2 separate regions of the Homo sapiens genome follow, and region 1 is linked to region 2. Evidence: fine-mapped expression QTL. A gene starts in region 2. The other region holds a variant in brackets. All regions are shown on one strand. Distances are from middle to middle.

Evidence for each region. PIP is the estimated chance that this variant, and not a neighbour inherited with it, causes the effect.
Region 1: its variant is fine-mapped to the expression of RAB11FIP4 in whole blood (TOPMed, PIP 0.97).

Annotation. Positions count from the first base shown.
Region 1 is chr17:31,489,848-31,501,390 of GRCh38, reverse strand. The region is part of intron 3 of RAB11FIP4 (RAB11 family interacting protein 4); the gene reads right to left. Among named protein-coding and RNA genes, the nearest start is that of MIR4724, 39 kb to the left of the region's middle. RefSeq lists enhancers at 557-1,516, 1,517-2,478. The variant A/G (reference allele first, on the strand shown) is at 6,525.
Region 2 is chr17:31,386,412-31,397,954 of GRCh38, reverse strand. RAB11FIP4 (RAB11 family interacting protein 4) reads right to left here and starts at 6,280. Exons shown (of 15, transcript NM_032932.6): 1 at 5,944-6,280. The coding sequence starts at 6,102. RefSeq lists an enhancer at 6,476-7,065.

The sequences.
Region 1 (11,543 bases), 100 kb before region 2:
TAGGCTAAGCTATGGTGTTTGGTAGGTGAGATGTATTAAACGCATTTTTTTCTTTTTTTTTTTTTAACTTATGATACTTCCAATATACAATGGGTTTATCAGGACGTAACCCCATCAAGGAGCATCTGTAACTGGATTTCCAGAACCTACTCAAGAGACTCAGGGATTTATTTTTGGTCTGTCCTAAAAAAAAAAAAAAGTTGTATTCTCTTATTCTCTTTCACGATTAGTTTGAAATACTGCTACTTCTTAAGAGATGATATTTTGTTGAAATCAAAGCTTGGTGAATCTATGATTATCAGGATGGCATTCTATAAACACTATATGCCAATCTAAGTAAGTTATTTCCATTTTCTTTTTTTTTTTTTTGAGATGGAGTCTCACTCTGTCACCAGGCTGGAGTGCAGTGGCACGATCTCGGCTCATTGCAACCTCTGCCTCCCGAGTTCAAGCGACTCTCCTGCCTCAGCCTCCTGAGTAGCTGGGACTACAGGCGCGTGCCATCACACCCAGCTAATTTTTGTATTTTTAGTAGAGACGGGGTTTCACCATGTTGGCCAGGATGGTCTCGATCTCTTGACCTCGTGATCTGCCCGCCTCAGCCTCCCAAAGTGCTGGGATTACAGGCATGAGCCACCATGCCCAGCCACTTCCATTTTCTTGTGCATTCTCTCAGTAGTATAAGTATTCTATTTCAATTTCAGAGAAGCATATGCACAGTTCAGAGACGTTAGAATTGCAAAGGCAATTTTTGTTTGCCCAAAACTGTATTTAGTATAGTTATAAGACAAATGTAAAAGGTATTTTACCTACACAGCGATTGCTTTACAAGAGAATAAATCAGCAGTTAGCCCTGGAGCCACAGGCCCTCACACAAGGAGCCTTTTATCCTGGGTCAGGCTGCCTCTGTGACCAGCAGCGCTCAGTAACTGAACAAGATATTACCAGTTTCTCCGTGCCAGACAGTATTTCTGGCTACCTGACATCTGGAGCATTTTCCTCCCTCTGTTGTGGTCAGTGTGGGAAGGAGGGCCGCTACTGCCCCCGGGACACGTGGGCACCCTGCTCAGAGGGACGCCAGCTGGCCTGTGACATGGCCCAAACCCGAGCCCCACCCCCGCCACTCCACAGCGGTCTAGAGCTGGTTTGTAACCAAGGTGCAGCTGAATTTAGCTCAGTGAATCATCTCCAAGGAAAACCCACAGAGAAAGTGAACTCACCTTTTAACCAAGTCCTGGATGGGGTGTGACTGTCCCAAGAATGCCCTGGGTCCCAGATCTGAGTGCCCCAGTAAGCCCATTTCCTAAACAAAAAGGGTTTGAAGAGGCTATCTAGCCTACCCTCTGCCCTGCAAACAGAGCCAACGGCCTTGATTTTCAAATGAGAATGTGGACTTCGGAGGCAAACTGTTGGGGATTAAGAAAACAGAACTTAAATTGCTTCCACATCTGGAAAACAAACCCAGCAGCCAGCCCCAAGAATTCCAGGCATGCCAGCTCAAAGAGAAGCTGCAGGTCAGGGGAGGCTTTTCCTCTTAGCTTTCAGTCCCCCATCACCTACCTGAAGCCACAAAGATCTCCTGTCTACAAATAGCTAGTGGAGCCACAACTCAGAGAAAGAGAACAAAGTTGACATACTAGGGCGCCTACCATGTGGCCAGTCTGCTCTGTGCTTTACAGAGGTGGTAAACTCCCTGCAAGTAATTATCATTTTCCTCCTTATAGATGGGGAAATGTGGCCAGGTGCGGTGGCTCATGCCTGTAATCCCAGCACTTTGGGAGGCCGAGACGGGCGGATCACGAGGTCAGGAGATTGAGACCATCCTGGTCAACATGGTGAAACCCCATCTCTACTAAAAAATACAAAAATTAGCTGGACACGGTGGCACGTGCCTGTAATCCCAGCTACTCGGGAGGCGGAGGCAGGAGAATCGCTTGAACCAGGGAGTAGGAGGTTGCAGTGAGCTGAGACTGTGCCACTGTACTCCAGCCTGGCGACAGAGTGAAACTCTATCTAAAAAAAAAGAAGAAAGAAAGGAAGAAGGAAAAGAAAAAGTGGGGGAATGGTGTCCAGAGAGTCTCATCCACTTTCCCCTGAAGTATCCTGCAGTTTTTCTCTTTACTCCCCTTTGGAGTCACACAAAAAGTTGGGGCCATGCAAACCCAAATCAGGAGTTCCCTAATTTAAATCGTCCCATCTAAATTCTCAGAAAAGATTTCCCAAATGCCTACCGGAAGCTCCAGTTCCCATGCAGCCACTGCATCTCTGGTTCCCCCAAGAAAAGCATGGACCAGAGGTCCCAGCAACTCAACTCAAAAGCGAAGTAACGTGCTGCAGTTGAATGGGGTGCGTATAAAGGGCTCTCCTGGTTCTTGGAACGGGCAGCTATTTTTTGCTACAAATTATAGCTTTTCAAGATGTGGCTTTTTGAAGAGAGGGCTTAATTACTCACACAACCAAGAGTCTGTGGGGCTTGCTTTGGGGGCTCCATACTTTACCATCATGATAAGAGGAGCGATGATAAAAACACTTCACTCAAAGTGAAGGTTTGGGAGGGAAAACAGTGGCTCAGGCCAGCTCTTTCTTCTCGTAGAGTCCACCGGGTAGGTCAGGCTACATTTTCAGGGGAGCACCCTCCAAAGAGGTGACATGGAACTTTCCAGAGAGAGGCCACTATCCAACTCAAGGAGAGCATGCCTGGATGGAGCTGACCCACGGTCCAAAGCCAGGGTGGGTTCCCACCCAGCTCCTCCTCTGCCACAGAACCCTCAGGCCTTGAACAGCCAGCAGAGCACCGATGTTTACCCACAGCCAATGGCCAAGGCTCCACGTGACCCGCCCTTCTGGAGCAGGCAGGTCAGGGTCAGCAGGGTGACTCTCCTCCTCCCAACCCTGCAGGGCCTCCTGCCAGAGCCCTTGGTTTTTATAACCCTCTCCTCCTCCCTGCCCCATCTTCTGGTACCTCCCATCAGCACATAGCCCCCATGGTCTTCCCAGCAAGCTCAGTTCAGGTGTCTCTCTTTGTCCTGTGGCCTTTGCTAGACCCAGCTACCCAAGCTTCGTGTTCCAGAAGCTGCTGTCTTGCATGGGGGGTTGGGGGGTGTCACTCAAGCATAGCTGGCCAGAGCTCAGCTTAGGGCCTCCGGCCAGGGCAGGCTTTCTCGCAGTGGGGACAGGTGAGAGGGCATTAGGGGCTCATGGGGTGGAGACTCTCCCTCCCAGGGAGTCCATTGGGAACCCCCTCTAAGAGCTTGTGAGCTCCCCACTGCCCACAGAACCAGGCCCAGCTCCTGAGAGCAGCTCGCAAAGCCCCTTCCAGCAGGTCTCAGCCTCAGGACATGCTCTGCCTCTCCCCTTCCCTAGTACCCCAGGCTCCTGGGCACCTTTACCCACCCCAATGCCTCAGCACATGCTGCTTCTTATGCACAGGGGGCATAAGCACCACCTCATCAAAGAGGGGGCTTCGAATCTCTGACACTACACACAAAACTGAGGAGGTTGGGCTACTGGCTTTCATTGGAATCTCAAGAGGGAGGGGGCAGAGAGAAGATCTCCAAGGAAAACAAGGTTTAAAACCATCACCTGCTCTTAAAGCCTCCCTCTAGCCAGCAGCGCACACTCAGCCCCTGCTTGGGGGCCACTGTCACCCAGACATCCCCATGTGGCTGTCTCCTGGTGCCTCCCCAACTCAGCCCCGACTTCCATGAACAGCCCACACCTAACCCTCTGTACTGCTCCAGCCAGACCCTGTGCAGCCTTGTCATGTGCACCCCTGTAGGTGCCGACTGGGTGCCCACCCCACCACTCTTCCTCCTCTCTCTCCGTCCTGCCTCACCCCACTGCAGCCCAGCCATCCTGAAGGACGGGGCCCCTGACACATCCTGCTCACACAGGCCCCTGTGCCTTTGCCACTGCCCCCTGCCCAGAACTCCTCCGTCTGTCTCAGGAGCAGTGCCACTGGCTGGCACTCCCCGAGATCCTTAACACCTAAACAAGCACAAAGCAGTTTTTTTTTTGTTTTGTTTTTGAGATGGAGTATCGCTCTGTCGCCCAGGCTGGAGTGCAGTGGCATGATCTCGGCTCACTGCAGGCTCTGCCTTCCGGGTTCCAGCGATTCTCCTGCCTCAGCCTCCTAGGTAGCTGGGATTACAGGCGCCTGCCACCACGCCGGGCTGATTTTTGTATTTTCAGTAGAGATGGGGTTTCACCATGTTGGTCAGGCTGGTCTCGAACTCTTGACCTCAGGTGATCCGCCCGCGTTGGCCTCCCAAAGTGCTGGGATTACAGGCATGAACCATCGTGCCTGTCCACAAAGGGGTCTTAAACATTTGAGAACAAGGAAAGCACGCATCTGCTAAGCACCTATTGTGTGCCAGGTATTTCTGTGCATCAGCCACTATTTAGATGAGAATACACAGGTTCAAGGAGGTTAAGTAATTCGTGAAAGGTCGCAGGGCTGGGATTTGAACCAGGTCTGATTTTAACGCAGCAAGGAGGGTACAGAGAATACCAAATGCTCTCAGCGATGCGACATCCAGCACCCCATGGACAACACTGTGCACTGGAGTGGACTCAGGCTGACCCTGCAGCCACAGGAATGGCAGTTAGCAACGCTGATGGTACCAGAACTTGGACTTGAGCTGAAGCTTGCAGGGACCACAGCACACTGGGCTTCTGAGGTCTGTGCCATCCAGGCCATCAGGCAGAGCCCTCCTCCCCTTTCCCACCCCAGGGAGCTTCAAAGAGGCTACATGTGGGAAGACTTTACAGAAAGGGAGAGGAGAGATTTGAAAGAAAATTGCTAAAAGGAAACACATGTGAAAATGAAAACTCAGGCAAAGGGGGAGAAGGACGAGGGAAGAAGAGTAATGTCCAAGGATTATAAACTGAGTCAAGAAGCCCTTGGAACACCAGTTTCCCTCTGCTCCCTTGGGAAGGCCAGTGACCCACTCCCAGCCCTCATTTTCCCTCTTAACCCAGATGGAACGGGGCAGACCTTAGATGATACCCAGCAAGAGAAACAGGGAATGTTGCCTTGCACACAGCCATGACAACTGTGGAGCCACGATTCATATGTGGTGGGAGGAAAATCCCGAGGCTCAGAGAGGTCGCTCTACTTTGCCAAGGCCACACAGCTGGCGAGCCATAAAGCTGGAATCTAAGCCCAATCCAAGGTTGTCCCCTTGAACCACATCAGGGTCCCCTCATATAATCTGCCACCACTACAAGGTGGCTCCACCTGCATCCTTGGAGGAACTGGACAAATTATATAAGTTCCCCAGAGGTTACCTAGTTTCTATTTCATTAAATCTGAGACACCTCTGATTTTACAATGCACCGTTATTTCAAGTATGCCAAGAAAAAGGCGCTGTCAAATTATAATAATCCGCAAATGTGCGACACATTCCAATTTAAGATGTTAAATGGAAAAAAAGGAAAGGAAAAAAAGAATGTGCCTTAGAATCCCAGAAAATACCATGTAAGTGTGAGTAGGGAACAGGGATTCAGTCACAGTTCCGCAGACTGTGTGTGTGCAGTGAAGGGCAGTCAACAACTCCACACAAGCACATGAGCACACACCTGCTGCTATAAAATCCTTCTTTGCTAATAACTGATGCAATCGTGCAGATAATCATACAAAAATGTGTTGGCCAGACCTGCCTTGTCAACAAGAACCCTCATTTCACCAGGAGACCATCAATTCAAGGTTGCCTAACATCAGTCAGACGAGTCAAGCATGGTGGCTCATGCCTGTAATTCCAGCACTTTGGGAGGCCAAGGTGGAAGGATTGCTTGCGCCTAGAAGTTTGAGACCAGCATGGGTGACATAGTGAGACCTCATCTCTACCAAATGAATAAATAGCCGGGAGTGGTGGTGCACCCAGCTACTCAGGCAGCTGAGGTGGGAGGATCACTTGAGCCCAGGAGGTCGAGGCTACAGTGAGCCAAGATTGTATCGCTGCACTCTAGCCTGGGCAGAAATGCGAAACCCTGTCTCAAAAAAAAAAAAAAAAAAAAAAAAAATCAGTCAAGTGGAGGCTGTCCTGCCCACCTAACCAGCCAGGCTAGGCCAGGCTAGCCAGCTTCGCCTGAGTGGAGCTATAGACCTCTGGGCAGCCAAGCTGGATGACTCTGTGGTTAACTACCAAGGGCAGTCACCCAGTGTGGCTGGGCGGTGGCACAGCCTGCACCTTTTTGTCTGGCTTTTCTCCAAATCTCCTGGGGCTTGTGGCCAGCCAGAGCCTCAGCATTTTAATAAGGCAGATGCTGGGGGCTGGCAGTGGCAGATGGGCAGCACTGCTCCAAGCCAGCTTTTCCAGCTAGGCACAGGTGGATGGACAGGCAGGCCCTGGCTGGAGGTGAAGGGCAGGTGGGCCGAGGTGTGGAGGGCCATCCTCCCCTTGGCAGGCCAGCCACAGCCTGGCAGTGTGAGCAGCCTCTGGAAGGACAGGCTAGGTACAGTCTCCCTCACTGAACCTGGGGAGAAGTCTGTTACCTCGGAAGCTGCTTGACATCTCATTCAC[A/G]GACTGCCACACAAATGCTAGTCACTTCACCCCAGACCCAGAATCTGTATCTGCAGAGCCCGAGCAAGGTTTGTTAAAAACACAGAAGCTGGCTGGGTGCAGAGGCTCATGCCTGTAATCCCAGCACTTTGGGGGGCCGCGGTGGGAGGATCACCTGAGGGCAGGAATTCGAGATCAGCCTGGGTAACATAGTAACACCTCATTTCTACTTTTTTTTTAAAAAAATTAAAATTAAAATTGAAAAAAAAGATTTAAAAACCCACAGAAGCTGAGGAAGTAGAGTTTTGCTTCTCTTGCAAAGGCCCTTGAGTAATGGAGTTTTTCCGCTGCCACCTTCCTGTTTGGGCCATGACACTCCCCGGCAAGACATTCTGTTAGGTGCGAAGGTTATTAGTCACAACAATCAAACCAGCTGAAGCCTGCAGGAACTAAGAATAACAGCTCACCCCAAAGCACAGTTTTAAGTGCTTTTCATACATTTACATATTTGAGCCTTACCACGAACCCTGTGAGGGAGGTACTAGCCTCATCCTCTTACCACGAACCCTGTGAGGGAGGTACTAGCCTCATCCTCGTTTTACAGGTGGGGAAGCTGAGGCACAGAGAAATTAAATAACTTGTCTAAGATTCCACCAATAGCAAGGGGCAGAGCCAGGATCTGAACCCAGAGACAGCCTGACTCTGAAGGCATTTTGGTACTAAACTGGCCTGCCTCTCTAACCATCTAACCGTCCACGAGTGTCAACTAAGTAAAGGCCAGAACCTAGACTGGGCATCTTAAATCACCATGGCTCATTTTATTTTCACCATCACCCTGCGAGGCAGGTGCTATTATCAACCCCATTCTACCTGTTGGGCACCCCAACCCTCAGCCACCCCAAAGCAGGGGGGTGGATGAACAGGATGCCCCATCTGAATGCTGCCTGACACGCAAACACACACGTGTGTGCACACACACATATACGATCTGGGGCCCTAAACTGGACAGACTAAACCCAAAGCTGCTGCCCAAATGTGGGAGTGACTCCCTGGGGTCCTTAGGACCCCACAGAACCATGCTGCTGCCTGCCCACAGGCAGAGGGAGTGAAGAGTGAGGCCAGGGAAAGTGAAATCAGAAGGGTGAGGTCGCCTGTCCAAAGTTCCACAACTAGCGAGCAACAGAGCCAGGATCTAGACCTAGAAGTTTTCTGGCGCCCATTTTTTCTCCTTAAGGAAACAGGCATTGGGTGACAAAGCGTGGGATGCAGGTGTCTGTGTCTTAGGTAGGCATTTCTTCCAGGAAAACGAGGGAGCAGGGGGCAGGGACTTGCTGCTATTCTCGCTCCTATTCTAGGAGGGAGACTTGAGTCTGGTGCAGAGGGTAGACACCCCTCAGCTCCCTTACCCCAAGTTCACCGGAGCAGCAGCAGCTATTTGAAATGTGGGTTCCCTTTCCATGGTATCAGGCTTGCACAGCGCAGGGGGGTGGGGGGTGACCACAGATGACTAAAGAGAGAGAGCCCGCCCACTCTCCCACACTCCAGTTCTGTTTAGGCCTTCCTCTTTCTGGTACCTCAAAAGAGAAAGGCTCCCATGAGCAGAGCCACAGATATTAATAACTTCTACAGAGCTTTGTTTTCATCTGAATTAATGTTTACATTGTTGGGAAAGAACCCACTTGTCTGGGAAGATGAAGCAGGTTAGATCAATTAAAAATGTGACCAACAGTTGGAAAACTTCCCATTTCTTAAGGTCAGTCAAGAAGTGGGTTTGGAAGTGCTGGCATGACTAGCACTGGCCTGCTGGGCGGTTCTGGGCTGGAGGTCACTCAGACCCCACAGCTCTGGGCCATCACAGCCACCCCTCTGACCTTCATACGACCCTTGTAGGCTGCACGTCCTTCTGGTTGCCTATGTTCTCCTCCCCGTCTCATCTCCTTTCCAGGTCATGCGAAAAAGTGAAGAAGTAACCACCAAGGTTGTCTGGGTGCTCAGGGGGGTTCTGAGAATCTGAGCTCTTGTCATCAATGCTCTTGAGGGGGGCTCAGCTCCTGAAGCACCAAGACGCTCGGGACCCCTCTGAGCAAGGCCAGCTGGGCGCCCCCAGCATCCACTCAGCCTTGAATGGGGTCCACAGAAGCTGGCCAATGACAAATTCCATTCAATTAACAGTATTATGATGAAGCTGCAAACACTTGGGGAAGGACTGCCATGTGTAGTCAGACACTTGGCATGAGATAATGAGAAAATAGCTCCAAATGAAAACAGATAAGGGTGCAGTCCAGGCTTCTGGGGGCACCTTCTCTGCAGCCTGCCACCCAGTGTGGGCTCCAGATCATGGTGCTTGGAACCGTGGTCAGGCCCAAAGCTACAAATCCTCCCAGGATAACATGTGCTGGCCAGGAGAGGTAGCCAAGACACCCTGCTGAAGCCCCACCCACCAAAAACTCAGAGGGCACCCCAACCTTCAGCCACCCCATAGCAGGGGGGTGGATGAACAGGATGCCCCATCCGAATGCCGCATGACACGCAAACACACGTGTGTGTACACACATATATATGATCTGGGGCCCTAACCTGGACAGACTAAACCCAAAGTTGCTGCTCAAATGTGGGAGTGACTCCCTGGGGTCCTTAGGACCCCATAGAACTGTGCTGCTGCCTGCCACAGGCAGAGGGAGTGAAGAGGGAGGCCAGGGAACCCTTGAGGATCAGACAAGAGATGAGGAGACAGCCTGGGTGACACAGGCCAGAGTACGGAAAACACGGGCAGGCTGCTGGCTGCTTTATGAGCCTTGAGAGCAGGACCTGTCCCTACCCGACAGGAGCTGACCCGTGGGAACAGCAGGCAGGCCCAGGCAGCTGTCAGAGACACAGCTGTATGCACATCGCCGGCGTGCCCTTTGCTGGTTTGATTCGTGTGGTGGCAACAGCATAGTCTGGCAGGAAATGTTTCCACGTTCACATGGACAGGCTCGTCTGACCCAACTCAAGCTGAGGGCAGGGAAGTCTGTGGCAGCAGTGGCCACAGAAGCCTGTCCTCCAGAAATGCCTCAATGCCCAAATCCCCTCGACGCGGAGGCTCTGAGAAGGGCAGAGCAATGGAAGGCAGCTCGTGCCTGTGGATTTCTAGTCTCACTTGTACTGTCAGTCCCCTCTCCTCCTCCTCCTGGGATTCTGGGTTGTCACAGCATTGGGTGGTCCCCCATCTCTCTGAGCTTGTCCCCTGTCCCCCCAGCCCTGGCTTGCTCTCCAATCACATCCTGTCTTGTAGTTCTGTGGACAGACATAGCATGCCAGCCACCGTCCCACCTCAGGGCCCTTGCAGTTCCTCTTTTCTCTGCCTGAACCTCTTTCGTTTGGATGTCACCTTCTCAGTGAGGACTTCCCTGTCTGACTCTGAAACCCAGCACTCCCTCCCCTTCCCTGCTCTTCCTCCTGCCAACTCCCATACTCCGTGTTTTACTGCTCTACCTGCCTCACTACCATCCTGCGAGCTCCTTGAAGGCAGGGGTTCTCGTCTGTTTTGTTCACTGCTGTATCTCCAGTGCCCAGCACAGAATCTGGCACAAAGTAGGCAACGAAGAATCTGGTGAATGAATTCAGTACCACTTGCCCTGTACTGGGAAATGTGCTGGGGGCTGAGCAAACAGAAATGGGGAAGCCTCCGTGTCCTGAAACGCCTCCTGGTGAGGGAGACTGTGGTACCATTCAGGGGCAAAGATCGTACGACATCCAGTAAGGCACCAGGTGGGACTGCCAAATAGGCAGGCCTGTCTTGTGGTGCCTAATTGGTATGGATGGGACCACCCAATAATCCAGCCATGAGACCTGAGATGAAGTAACTGGGCATTGATCTTCGAGGCCAGTGTTTGAAGCCATAGGTGCCCAGTTCCTGAGTCAAGAGCCAGCAGAGCTGACCCAGAGGAAGACAGAGTCCAGCCCCAGGGGTTCTGTATGCCTGGCAAGGCCAGGGCACTGTGCCCCACTGCTAACACCAGACAGCAGGCACGAACAGATAAAGATGCTTCAGCTGGGTGTGGTGGCTCATGCCTGTAGTCCCAGCGCTTTGGGAAGGTGAGGCAGGCAGAACCCTTGAGCCCAGGAGTTTAAGACCAGCCTGGACAACATGGCAAAACCCCATCTCTACAAAAACAAAAACAAAAATTAGCCAGATGCAGGGTGGCACACACCTGTAGTCCCAGCTGAGACTGAGGTGGGAAGATTGCTTGAGCCTGGGAGGGTGGGAGGCTGCAGTGAGCCCTGATCACACCACTTGACTCCAGCTTGGGCCATAGAGCAAGACCCTGTCTCAACTCAATTAAAAAAAAAAAAGATGCTTCCTTTTCAAACACAATGAGCCCTGTGCCAGGAAACAGCATGCCCTTTCTCATTCGGAGATGCCTGCCTTCTGGGAACTGCTCACCTGCTATTTCATTGGGAGCCTCTCCTACCCCCTTCACCCCCTCCTTACCCATACCTAAAACATATAAAGTGAAATTGCGAAGTCTCCTCAGAACAGAATCAGTTGTGAAAAACCTCAGCATAACGGGCTGCCCAGATCGGGGACTGCCAGATACCTACGGGTACAGATGAAGGAGGGAGTTGCAAGGGCCCCAGGTGAACGGCCAAAGAGAAAACCTTGGGTCTGAAGCAGCCTGCCTACCAGGAGGGGAAGGGGCTAGGAAGGCACTAGCATGCTTTAGAAGTGGCACAGATGGTCGGGAGGGAGAGTGAGGGCCGGTGGAGTATCTCAAGCTGCAGCCCAGAGCCTTCCGAGTGCAGGCTGCCCCTGGAACCCCAAAGGAGGTGGCTTAGAACCCAATGGGCCCTCTAATTTCTTCTGCTTTTCCTCCCCCACTTGCCTAAAAGTCCCTTCCGAGGGCAGGCTCCAGGCAGTCTCTCCTACAGACCTCCCTTAGGGCAAAGGTCATGCCTTCCAGCTGGCTCACCTGGCCTGGCTAGTCCCGCCCCTCGCCTCCGGCCCAGTCTTATCTCTTCTACTGGCCTTAGTCATTTACTCCACCCCCTTCGCCTAAG
Region 2 (11,543 bases):
TGCAGTGAGCCATGATGCACCCCTGAACTCCAGCCTGAGCTACAAAGCGAGAGCCTGTTTCAATTAAAAAAAAAAAAAAAGGCAGGGGCGTGTCTGATAAGATGGATGAGTCCCAGCAGACTTTCTGCATCTGGCCTCCTCCCAGCACAGCCAAACTGGTGGGCACAAGAGGCCAGAGGGTGCCCCAGCTAGGACTCGTCCTCCCGCCTCAATGCAGAGTGTGGTGCCACATGCCCATCCCCAGGCCCCAAGGGATCCCCAGCCCTGGCCCCACTTCCATGATGACCTCCAACCTCAGGAGCACAGTTTCCCAGAAGCATAGGAAAGAGAACATCTCTCTGGGCTCACTCTTGTCCTGCTTCCACCTCAGGTCCCAGGCACTCCCACCTTTTCTGCCAGGCTCAGGGCACCTGGGCCTTCCTTCTGATGTGCCAGCCTTGTCACTCTGCATGGTAGCCTCATTAGGGTGGGGCACATAGAGGTTGCCTGGTCTCAAAAGAGCACCTTTAACTATCACCTTTTGGGAGTAGCTCGTTGGGACTTTGCCGGCCTTCCAGGCCCCTGTCAATTCTGCACCCCCCGCCACTGCCCAAGTTAGGATGCTCTTCCTCTCTTACCATGTGCCACAGTCCCGAGGAGGCCTCCTGCCTCCAATCCTGCTCCCCATCCCCTGTTCTCTCATACACATCCACTCTTGGCTGCCTAGGTCTCACTGCCTACAGGGAACCACTGATCTGGCCCTACCTTCCCCTTCACCCCTTCCTCCAGCCACAGCTGTGGGGATACAGTTGTTTCTTCCCTGTTATCCAATTGCTACTCCTGAGCAGAGGAGCTTTAGTTCCAGGTGCTCCTGTTCCTGGAAGCCACGTATCTCAAAAGACATCGATCCCAGCCCCAGGGCTGGCTCCTGGCCGGTCTCAGCCCATCCTAGCACCCCAACCCCTTTGCCATTTCAAAGACCCAGGCTTAACCCAAGTGGCACTAGCAATTCCCCCATAGCAGGCATTAGCTCAGAGGGGACCTGAGGACTCAGGGAGCCCAGTGGGGACCATCATTTCATTTCCAAGCAGGCAGGACAGGCCCACTGTCCAGAGGAGATGGTGCTGTGTTAATGCATGGGAGAGGCCTACTTGGTGATTCTTATTTCTATTTTTCTAGCAAGAAGGACGGTCTTCAAACTGGAAAGGGAAGAGGACCATGTCACAGGGAAGTGTGGTCCAGGACATCTCTGGCTGCTTTCAATGTCTACCATTCTGACTGCCGAGGGGACGTAAGAGGGGCAGGAACACCACAGCTGGTTAAGGAGGGTGAGTTGAGCACACAGAGGCCGGTGCCAGATCTTGACCTCAATTCCTAGCAAATCTCCAGCCTAGAACAGCCTCTCAAAAATGCTTGCAAGTGTTTAGAAAATAATAATAATGACAAGGAGAGCACCAGCAATTCTGATATTATGCCTACTCTGTGCAGATACTGGACTAAGCCCTTTGTATGTATTAACTCACTCAAACCCCACAATAACCCTATAGAATGGGGACTCTGATCAGCCCCATTTGATGGATGAGTAAATAGAGGCCTAAAGAGGTTAGGGAGACAATGCAATATATCAGAAGGCAACACAGGGTCAGGATGTTGAGCCATCATGTTACATACTTATCAGAGTCCTGCTCCCTGGCATTGTAGACTTTCAGGATCAGGGCAGTGGTGTGCCCCCATCCCTCAAAAATCTGCATTTCTTTCTTTTCTTTTCTTTTCTTTTCTTTTTTTTTTTTTTGTGGCAGGGTCTCACTCTGTCACCCAGGCTAGAGTGCAGCGATGTAATCTCAGCTCACTGCAACCTCCGCCTCCCAGGTTGAAGCGATTCTCCTGCCTCAGTCTCCCAACTAGCTGGGATTACAGGTGCACGCCACTACACCGGGCTAATTTTTGTATTTTTTGTAGAGATGGGGGGTCTCACCATGTTACCCAGGCTGGTGTGGAACTCCTGAGCTCCAGTGATCCTCCCACCTCAGCCTCCCAAAGTGTTAGGATTACCGGCATGAGCCACCACGCCCGGCCCATTGTCTCCTCTTTTCTGCTGTGATACCTAGGTCAACAAAGTAGGGAACTATCAGGGACTAACCTAATCCATAAATAACATTATTAAGTAACATTCATACTTGATCCTGACTTCCTTAGTTTTTACCTAATGTCCTCTTCTTGATTCTAGGGTCCCATCCAGGACACCACACTGCATTTAGTCAGCTGCCTCCTTAGTCTCCACTTGGCTCTGACAGTGTCTCAAAATTTCCTTGTTTTGGATGACCTTGACAATTTTGAGAGGTCCTAATCAGGCATTTTGTAGAATGCCTCTCGGATGGGATTTGTCTGGCATTTTTCTCAGGACTAGACTGGGATTACTGGTTTGGGAGGAAGACCACAGAGGAAAAGTTCTATTCTCACCACATCACACCAAGGGTGTATGCCATCATCACAATCTGTCACTATCGATGTTGTCCTTGATCACCTTCTGAGACAGTGTTTGTTGGGTTTCTCCACTATACAGTTGCTGTTCCCCCCACTTTCCAAACTCTACCCTTTATAAGGAAGCCACTACGCACATCTCATGCTTACACGGTGGGACGTTATGCTTCACTTCCTCAATGGGGCAATTATCAACATACGTTATTCAGATTTCTTCTATACGAGAGATTTTCCTATTTATTTATTATCATCTGTTCAATAATTTATACATATATATATTTCATTATGGCCTCATGGATATTTATTTCATACTTTATGACCTAGTATATTTTGGTTTTTGCAAAGCATTTGATCCTGGTATCCCTGGTATTCTGGGGGTAGGTGGTAAACTGTGGACAATCAGCTCTAAGTTCACTGAACTACATATCTAATGAATGATCATTATCCATCCCAGAGCACAAGTGGCTGGGAAATCAATGTCACTGCCTGATTTTAAAACAAATAAAATAGAAACAGTCAGAGTACACTGCATTTCGTAAGGGAGCCCCCCCCCCCCGCCCCCCGCCACCCCACCGCTGGAAAACAACACTCCGATTTTTTAATGCATCAGGGGATAAGATGGGTAGTGAGTAGAGATGCAAAATATATTTCCACGGGTCTCGGTCAATACAGCATAAGCCGAAAACCACCCCTACAAGTGCCTCGGGGCCCTGTCCATGGTCCTGCCCTGCAATGTTTAACCAGCCTTGTGGATTCAGACACACCAAGCACTGCTTCTCCAGCCCGCAGGCAGCAGCACAGCTGAGAGTGATAGAGGTAGGATGCTAGATTCTCTTTCTTGACAGATACAATGTGATGAAATGAACAAGACGAAATTAAATGGGAATAAGGGCCAAGAAACAGGCTTAGATTCCAGAAATTACTGACAGACAACAGGCCCGAATGCTTCCACAAGCCAGGATTGTTAAAAGAAAAAAGAAAAGAAAAGAAAAGAAAAAGGAATTGTGTACAGTAAGAGAGACTAAAAGGTGACAACAACCACATACACTGCACAGTCCTGGAGAGGAAACAGCAAAAATGGACATTTTGGGGTCAAATAGGGAAATCTGAAAAAGGTCTGCATATTAAACCAGATGAAAATTTATTGAAGCAGAAAAGTCATGATCATTTACCGGCAAAAAAAATCAGGTTACAAAACAGTATGCACAGTATGATCTCATTTTCTGGAGAAAATTGACATATAAGCATGGAAACAGCTCTGGAAAGGTCTGACAGAAGTGTCATTGAGGCGCTGCCTGAGAGATAGGACACAATACTTTTTATTTTGCTTGTCCCTATTTCCAGTTTTCTGCAATGCATATCCACCGCTTCTGTAGTAATCTCAGAGTATGCTTTTAAAAGAAAAAAATCACTGACCCTCCCCGAAGGGTGGAGAATCCCTGGCTTGGCAGAGGTTTCTAAAACAGATCCCTGGAGGTTTCGGTGGCCAGAAACTTAATATAAGCAGAGTGCAGTGCCCCATTCAGAGGCAGCCCCACCCTAAGCTGTGTGCATATGTGTGAGGTCTTGGGGCTAATATAGTCCTGGTGGGGGCGGCGGGGGGCGGTCTGCTTGTCCAGCCCTTTCATGTTATTGCTAGGAAAACTGAATCACAGAATTAGTCGATGGCAGCTCCAAGGCCAGAAGCCAGAGGTCTGGCTACTGGGTCACATGGAAATGGCCTAGGGCTTCAGGAACTGGGGTATTTGGCCTGGAGAAGGGAAAATGGGAGTATGGAGCTGGGAAGGAGAGAAGGGGCAGGAGTGCTATTTTCAAATATTTAAAGGCTCCCCCAAAGAAGAGAGACCTATGTGAGTCCCCGTGCAGAACGGTGATGACTAAGTGACAAGCAGGTCTGTCTCTAGAGTGTATGAGGGAGAAGGTTCTAATGGCAGGAACTGTCCAGCTGGGGGAGAAGTGGGTGAGGCTTGCTGGGCACGTGGCTGAGGCCGGTGGCCCCTGCCAGAGGTTGTTGGGAGGCCCTTCCCACTACTGAGGCTCTGAGTTCGGGGACTCCAGGTTTCAGCCAGAGCTGGTAGCTTCTTTACCCGACCTGCAGTCTGTGTTCTGAGAGGAAGGAGCGCGACTATCCCCATGCCAGGAGTCTGCTCAGCCTGCCCCAGATGGGAGCCACTGGAAAAACGGAAGGGCTTGGCTGGCCTTTGGGGAAGAAGGGTCATGGTGGCAGCAGGCAGTGTCCCTCAGCAAAGCCCCGCAGAGGGCAGTCTGGGCTCTCACAGGCACTGCAGTGGTCTTTCCTGTGGTGGGTACCTGAGTTCTCAAGCCCTGAAGCTGCCTCACTCTCTTCTGCCCACAGCTCTCAGCGACTCACAAGTCCCGGCCCATGCCCAGGTGCGGGTGGAGAGATGATTCTCAATCGCCTCCCACTCTCTGGTGACGCAGAGGCACGGGCCCAACCTGGCCATCACCCAGCTTCTCCCATGTTCTGAAATGCCTGGTCCGACCTGTTCTGGGAACACAATGCCAGCCAGTGCCCATTTGAGGCCCATGGCCCCAGGCCCCCCATGCAGGGCCTGAGGCCTTAGATGGCCTTGGAAACCCACTTCTCAGGGCTTTTGGCTCCAGGGGAAACCCCTGACCATTTCAGCCAGGTGGGTGTCTTGTCCTCCCCTTGAGACACAGTCCCCAGTCCCCATGCCGGTGGCACCAGAGGACACTGGTGTAGTGTGCGTTTAGTGATATGACTCCGTCCACCCTACTGGCGGCACCGACCCTCCGCTTCCAGCCCTGTTAACAATCTACGTAAGTCCTGCTTTCCCCAAATAGATGCGGCCCCGCCACATGAAAGCCCTCTGCTCAGCCACCACTCCCCGAGCCTGGCTTTGCCTGGCCTGCTGCAACCAACACAGCCAGCTGCCAGCCTGGCTGCCCAGCAGAGCCTGAATGAGAGGTCACCCGACACTGGCCCGGGAGTACACGGTGGCCCCAGCAGACACCTCCTTCCGTGTCTGGGCAGGGTGTGTGCAGCCGAGGAGCCAAGGCTGCAGAGCACCCCTACCGGTCCCTTTCACCCCCTGGCCCGGCCCAGCAGGACGTACACAGACCCTTGCATCTTGGTCTCCGCAGCGCCGGGTGGGGTGGGGAGCCTAGGGCCGGATTCTGGCAGCTCTCTCCCCCAGACAAGGGTGGATGTGCAGACCGCTCAGAAGGACCTGCATGGCCGAGGAAGGAAGGTGGGCGCAGAAGCCACCCTAGGCGTGACGCGTGACGCTCGGGGCACGGGCGCCGGGGGGCGGAAAGCGAGGGCCCGGCTGGGCCAGGGATACCCGGGGGGGGCCGAGGTCCTGGGCTCCGGCGGAGGGAGGGGATTGGGAGGGAGGCCACCGCCTCGGGCCACGCGGGTGACCCGGCGGGGGAGCTGGGGGAGGGGCGGCGGGGCTGGGCTGGGGTCCCCGGGCCGGGACTGGGGTCGGGCCAGCTTACCTCCTCGCCCTGGCCGAAGCGCAGTCCGAGCGCCGCGACGCGCTCCACGCGCAGGAAGCCGTCGGGGTCGCGGCCGCACACCTCGAACACCTCGCGCAGGCGGCGCACGGAGCGCAGCAGAGCCGCGGGGGCGCCCGACCAGCCCGCGCCGCCCGCCATCCGGGCCGGCCCGCAGCTCAGCCCGGACCCCTCGCCCGCCGCGCCCGCCGCCTGCCCGCCGCCGCCATCGCCGCGCGCCCTCCGGGGCCGCCCGTCTGGGTCTGCGCCGCGCAGCCTCCGCCCGGTGGCGGCCGCGGCCGATCCGTGTCAGCAGCGGCGCCGCAGCCCCAGCCGCTCCGGAGGGGAAGGGAGGGGAGGGGAGGGAAGGAGAAGAGTGGGGAGGGGAAGGAGGAGGGGCAATAGGGGGCGGGGAGGGGAGGGGCGGGGGCCGCGGCGAAAATGGGAGGGAGAGGGGGAGGCGGCGGGGGCGGCGGCGGCGGGGACGCTGCAGACAAAAGGAGCCCGCGTCCTCCCGAGTGGGGCGGCCCACGCGGGGCCGGCAGGCGCAGCGAGCTGCCAACGGCCGCGTCCTCCGCGACCTCAGTTTCCCTCCGCGTCCCCAGTTTCCCTCCGCGTCCCCGAGCCCACCCCTTCCTCTGGACACCCGGAGCCACCCAAAGGCCCTGCCCTGCCGGAGGATTCCGCGGGGTCGCGCCCCTTTCCGCTATCCGTGCCCGCTGCCGCGCCTGGCGTCTCCCGAGCGCTCAGGATGTCCTGGGGGCCTCCTGCATTGGCGCGTTCCGTGACTGCATTCATCCCGGAGGAAGCTGAGGCCCAGAGAGGTCGGACTCACTCTAGGCCACACAGCTGGCAAGAGGCAGGGCCGGGATTCGCTGCCATCTCTGGAGGGCTCTGGACTCCGTTCTTCACCTCCGCCCTGCGGTCTCCCGGCGCTCTCCTGCAAGACAGCACTTGTGGGGCCATCGGGCGGGGGAGGGCACAGAGAGGAGGAGCAGGCAACTGAACCCCAGCCTGGACCCGGGACCCTGCGACGGGGAGATGAGGAGAAAACCAGGATGAGGCCGGAGGGAGGAAAAGCGAGGCGCTTCCAGAGGCCTGCCTGTTCAGGGCCCAAGGCTGCTCCACGCCTGGAAGAGGCTTCCTCCCTTTCGCCGGGTTCCCACCATCACACCTCCCTGGCAGCCCGCATGCCCCAAGCTCAGAGAATCCAGGACAGAATCTCTGTCCCGCTGGCCGCAGGCTCTAGGTCAGGACCCTGGCCTCCTCCCATTAGTGCTCAGCGGAGCCTCCACCCCAGCTTGTGCTAACTTCCCAGCCCAGCCTCGGGGCCCTGCAGGACCCGGCCGGGCTCTTCTCTCCACCTTCTTGCTCGGCACATCAGGTCTTTGTGGCAACGACTGGCCCCAACCCAAAAAAAGGCCTTGGCTGAGTCTACTCCCACCTATGCTGTCATGCTCAGCACAGAGGTTTCCTCCTCCGGGAAGGCTTCTCTGATGGCACGCCATCTTATCTTCTATTCTGAGTTCTAAGCCCTTCTTCCAGGTGCCCAGTTAATTCTTAATTCTCTAGTGGGATGCCCATTTCCCCTACCATGCTGGGAAGCCCTCCAGGGCAAGATATGTCTTAATTACCTTCAAGTCCCTGATCTCCAGGCAAGAGTGGGCCCAGAGGAAGCCCCACCCAGAGGGGATGGGCCCGCCCATTATGTGAGGAGCCGGGAGCAACGTAGTGGCGCAGACAGGGAGTACGGGGTGAACTGCATGGCCTCCCCTAGCTGGGCCTCGGTTTGTACCTCTGTGGTCTTCCTGCTCAACCCTGAATATATCCTGCGCAGGGACTGCCATTTGCCTTCTGACAGTGGGCGGGGACCTCTTCTTTCCAGCCCCGGCTCCTGGGATGAACCTGGCTTTTAGCTACTCTCCTTTGACCCTTCAGTTCGTCTGAGAGCCACGAAAGGCAACACCTCTTGGGAAGAGAGACCTGTGGTTCTGAGGATTGAGGAGTCCGAAATGTGAGAAAGCGGGAAAGGGGAGGCCGTGGGAGTGGAGTAGGGGTATTCGGCTGAGTAGGAGCGTCTCTGCTAGCTGGATGCCGCTCAGCAGGATACTAGCATATTTTAGCCGGTTTCCTCGCCTGTACCGTGAGGATAATAGTACCTTCCTTTTAGGGCAACTGAAGATGAGAGCGAATCTAAGCAATGCTGCTTTCCCCCGACCTACCCTGCAAAATGGAGGTGGAAGTGGAGAATAAGGACAAGCAGCTGGCTGGGAGAGACTGGCTGCTGGAGATCCAGCCAGCCCCCTGGCAAGGAGGTAGGGAGTGGAAGCTGGGGGCTGCTGCCTGCCCCTGGGACCCCGATATTAGTTCGTCCAAGGTCAGCTCGTGCCATTTTCTCTCACCCAAGGGGCTCAGCACAGAAAGGAGATGGCCAGGAGCTGGGGCTGCCCCCTGGTGGGGGCTGCAGAAATGGCTCTCCGCGCTCAGCCTGGCATTGAATGCCCCCTAACTGGGGACAGGGGAGCTGGAAGACTCACCCACTTCAGCTGGCAGAGGCGGGGACCTCAGACCTGAGCATGAACAAATCCCAAGTGAACCAAGACAGAATCCCGCAACCAGATTAGCCAGTTCTTGTCAAAGACAGGATCATCACAAATTCAAAAATCCCCCAGGAGAGCTTTCCCTGACCGGACTCTCCTTGCCCAGGTCTCTGCAGTTTTGTCTCTGGTGGGCGATGGTTTGAAGGACACCTGCCTCCCCCACCAGTGGCACTGGGTCTCTTGCTCACCGCTGTGCTGCTGGGGCCAGCAAAGCACGTCACAGGCATTCTTTCTGGGGTTGTCACGTTTTTGTTGAGCACCTACGTTGTGTTGGGTATGCTAGGGAGACAGTGAAAGGGGTGCAGCCACTTGCTGAACTTGATGGGGGCAGTCATGGCCCAGTGTGATCTACACTGAGGTGCCAGGCTCTAGGAGCCCAAGAGGGCCTGCAGAAATGGCTGAGTGCCTACCCAAAGGTCCCTCAGAGATGGTGCAATTTATGGAGTCCTTGGGTCCTTGGAAGTGGACCTGGGACCACTAGGGCTCCCAAAACCCTGATCCAAGAGCTCAGAGTGCAGCCCCGAGCAGAAGCAGCAAGAGAATACCCATGTCAGGGCCGGCTGCAGGGTGAAGGGGGTTGCTCCAGGAAAGCAAGAGGTCCCCATGGATAGGGCGGGAAGGCGCGGAGCCTCCTTTCTGTCCTCCGCTTCCTCCAGGTGACCTCTGATTCTCCAGGGGATTTCCAACAGCTGCAGCAGCCTGGGCAGGCTGGAAATATACTGGGAAATATACATGGAAGGGACAGTTGGGACTCCGGCCCCTTCTCTAGGAAGAAACAAGTTTGATCAGGTCCCTCCCCTGCTGAAAACTCAATGGCCACCATTGCCTGAGCTGGCATTGTGCAGTGTCTTCATACTCTCCTGCCTCTCCTTAACCCTAGTCTGGGAGCATCCAGGCTCCCTCCTGCCTCCCTTTGCTTAGTGGGTGGGAGGTCTCAATCCTACCCCCACCCAATTCCACTTTCTCTAATTCCTGTCCTTGTGTTGTGGAAGTGGCACTTCCTACCGGAAGCCTTTCATGACCACCCCACTCCTTGCCCACCTTGACCACCTCTCCCATGTGCTCCTGCAGAGAAGTGAAAAGTACAGACTGCAGCCCACTTACAGGTATGGATAAGGCTGTGGTGAGAGTCAGTAAGTTAATACATACATTGTAAGTGTCAGAACAGTGCTGCTGGTTAGTGACAGCTATTGTCCTTGTGACTATCCTTACCATCTTACTCCTATTGTCTATCACCGGATTATCTGGGAAACTGTATGAAAGGTCACAGGAGTGACCATGAGGTCCCTGGGAGCAGGGACTGTGTCTATTTCTCTCCTGATTTCTGTAGCTCCTAAATAATGCCCATACACACATAGTTAGGGTCTGTGTAGGAATAAATTAAGGAATGGACAAATATGGCATGGTAGGCTGAAAAATGCCCCCTTAAATGATATCTATATTCCAATCCCTGTACATCAGTGGTCCCCAACCTTTTTTGGCACCAGGGACTGGTTTCATACAAGTCGGGGGAAGAGGGTCTTGGGATGAAACTGTTCCAACTTAGATCATCAGGCTTCAGATTCTCATAAGGGGTGCGCAACCTAGATCCCCCTCCTGCGCCATTCACAATAGGGTTCCCGCTTCTATGAGAATCTAATGCCACTGATCTGACGGAAGGTGGAGCTCAGGCGGTAATGCCCACTCACCCGGCGCTCACCTCCTGCTGTGGTTCCTAACAGGCCATGAACTGGTAATGGTCTGCAGTCTGGGCGTTGGGACCCCTGCTGTAAATGTTACCTCATTAGAAAAAGGGTCTTTGCAGATGTAATTAAGGATCTGGAGGCTGGGCGTGGTGGCTCACGCCTGTAATCCTAGCACTTTGGGAGGCTGAGGCAGGCAGATTGCTTCAGTCCAGTAATTCGAGACCAGCCTAGGCAATGTGATGAAATCCTGTCTCTACTAAAAAATACAAAAATTAGTTGGGCATCGTGGCATGTATCTGTAGTCTCAACTACTCAGGAGGCTGAGGCAGGAGGATGGCTTGAGCCAAGGAGGTGGAGGTTGCCGTGAGCCCAGATCATGCCACTACAGTCCAGCCTGGGTGACAAGAGTGAGACCCTGCCTCCAAAAAAAAAAAAAACAAAAAAAAAACTAACAACAAAAAAAACAACAGGATCTGGAGACAGGGGGGTTATTCTGGGTTAGCTAGGTGGACCCTTAATGCAATCACACATATCTATAGGATGGATCAGAGGCAGATTTGACACATAAAGAGAGGGTAATGTGACCACAGAGGCAGAGATTGGAGTGGTGCAGCCATAAGCCAAGGAGCAACAGCAGCCATCAGAAGAGGCAAGGAGCAGAATCCCTCCCAGAGCCTCTGAAGGGCCCACAGCCCTGCTGATGCCTGGATTTTGGCCTTCTGGCCTCCAGAACTGTTACAGAATAAATTTCTGGTGTTTTAAGCCACCAAGTTTGTGGGAGCTAGCACAGCAGCCATGAGAAATGAATACAGATGGGATGAATATCATGTGGAAGTTATCAAAGATTATGAAGAGCCAGGCTTTGGAATTCAAAACAGCTGAGCTGGGCACCAACATCTGTTGCTCTTTTAGCCCCATGACTCTGGTCAGGTTAATTTCTCTAAGCTTCAGTTTTTCTACCTTGTAGAGGTCCTTCAGGCTTTTAATTTAAAAAAGATTGCGTCATGCCTCGCCCAGCGCTTGGCACAGTACCTGGCACCTGGGTGGTGATTATGTGTGTCAGTATGGAGCAGTTTAGAACCAGTCTAAAAGGGGGAACATTTCTGTATTTTCATCTGTGAGCCTTGACTTCATTGTCCATGTTGTCTGGAAATGGGGCAGGATTCAGTTACTTCCTGTTCACAACCTGCTGGGTTTTTTTAAACCCATGAATAATTATCACTTTGAAGGGGAAGAAGGTGCCGTGAACTTATTTTCCTTCTTCACTGATCCCAGAATATGTTTCTGTGAGCAAAAGCAGAGAGGCCCCTGCTTGGAG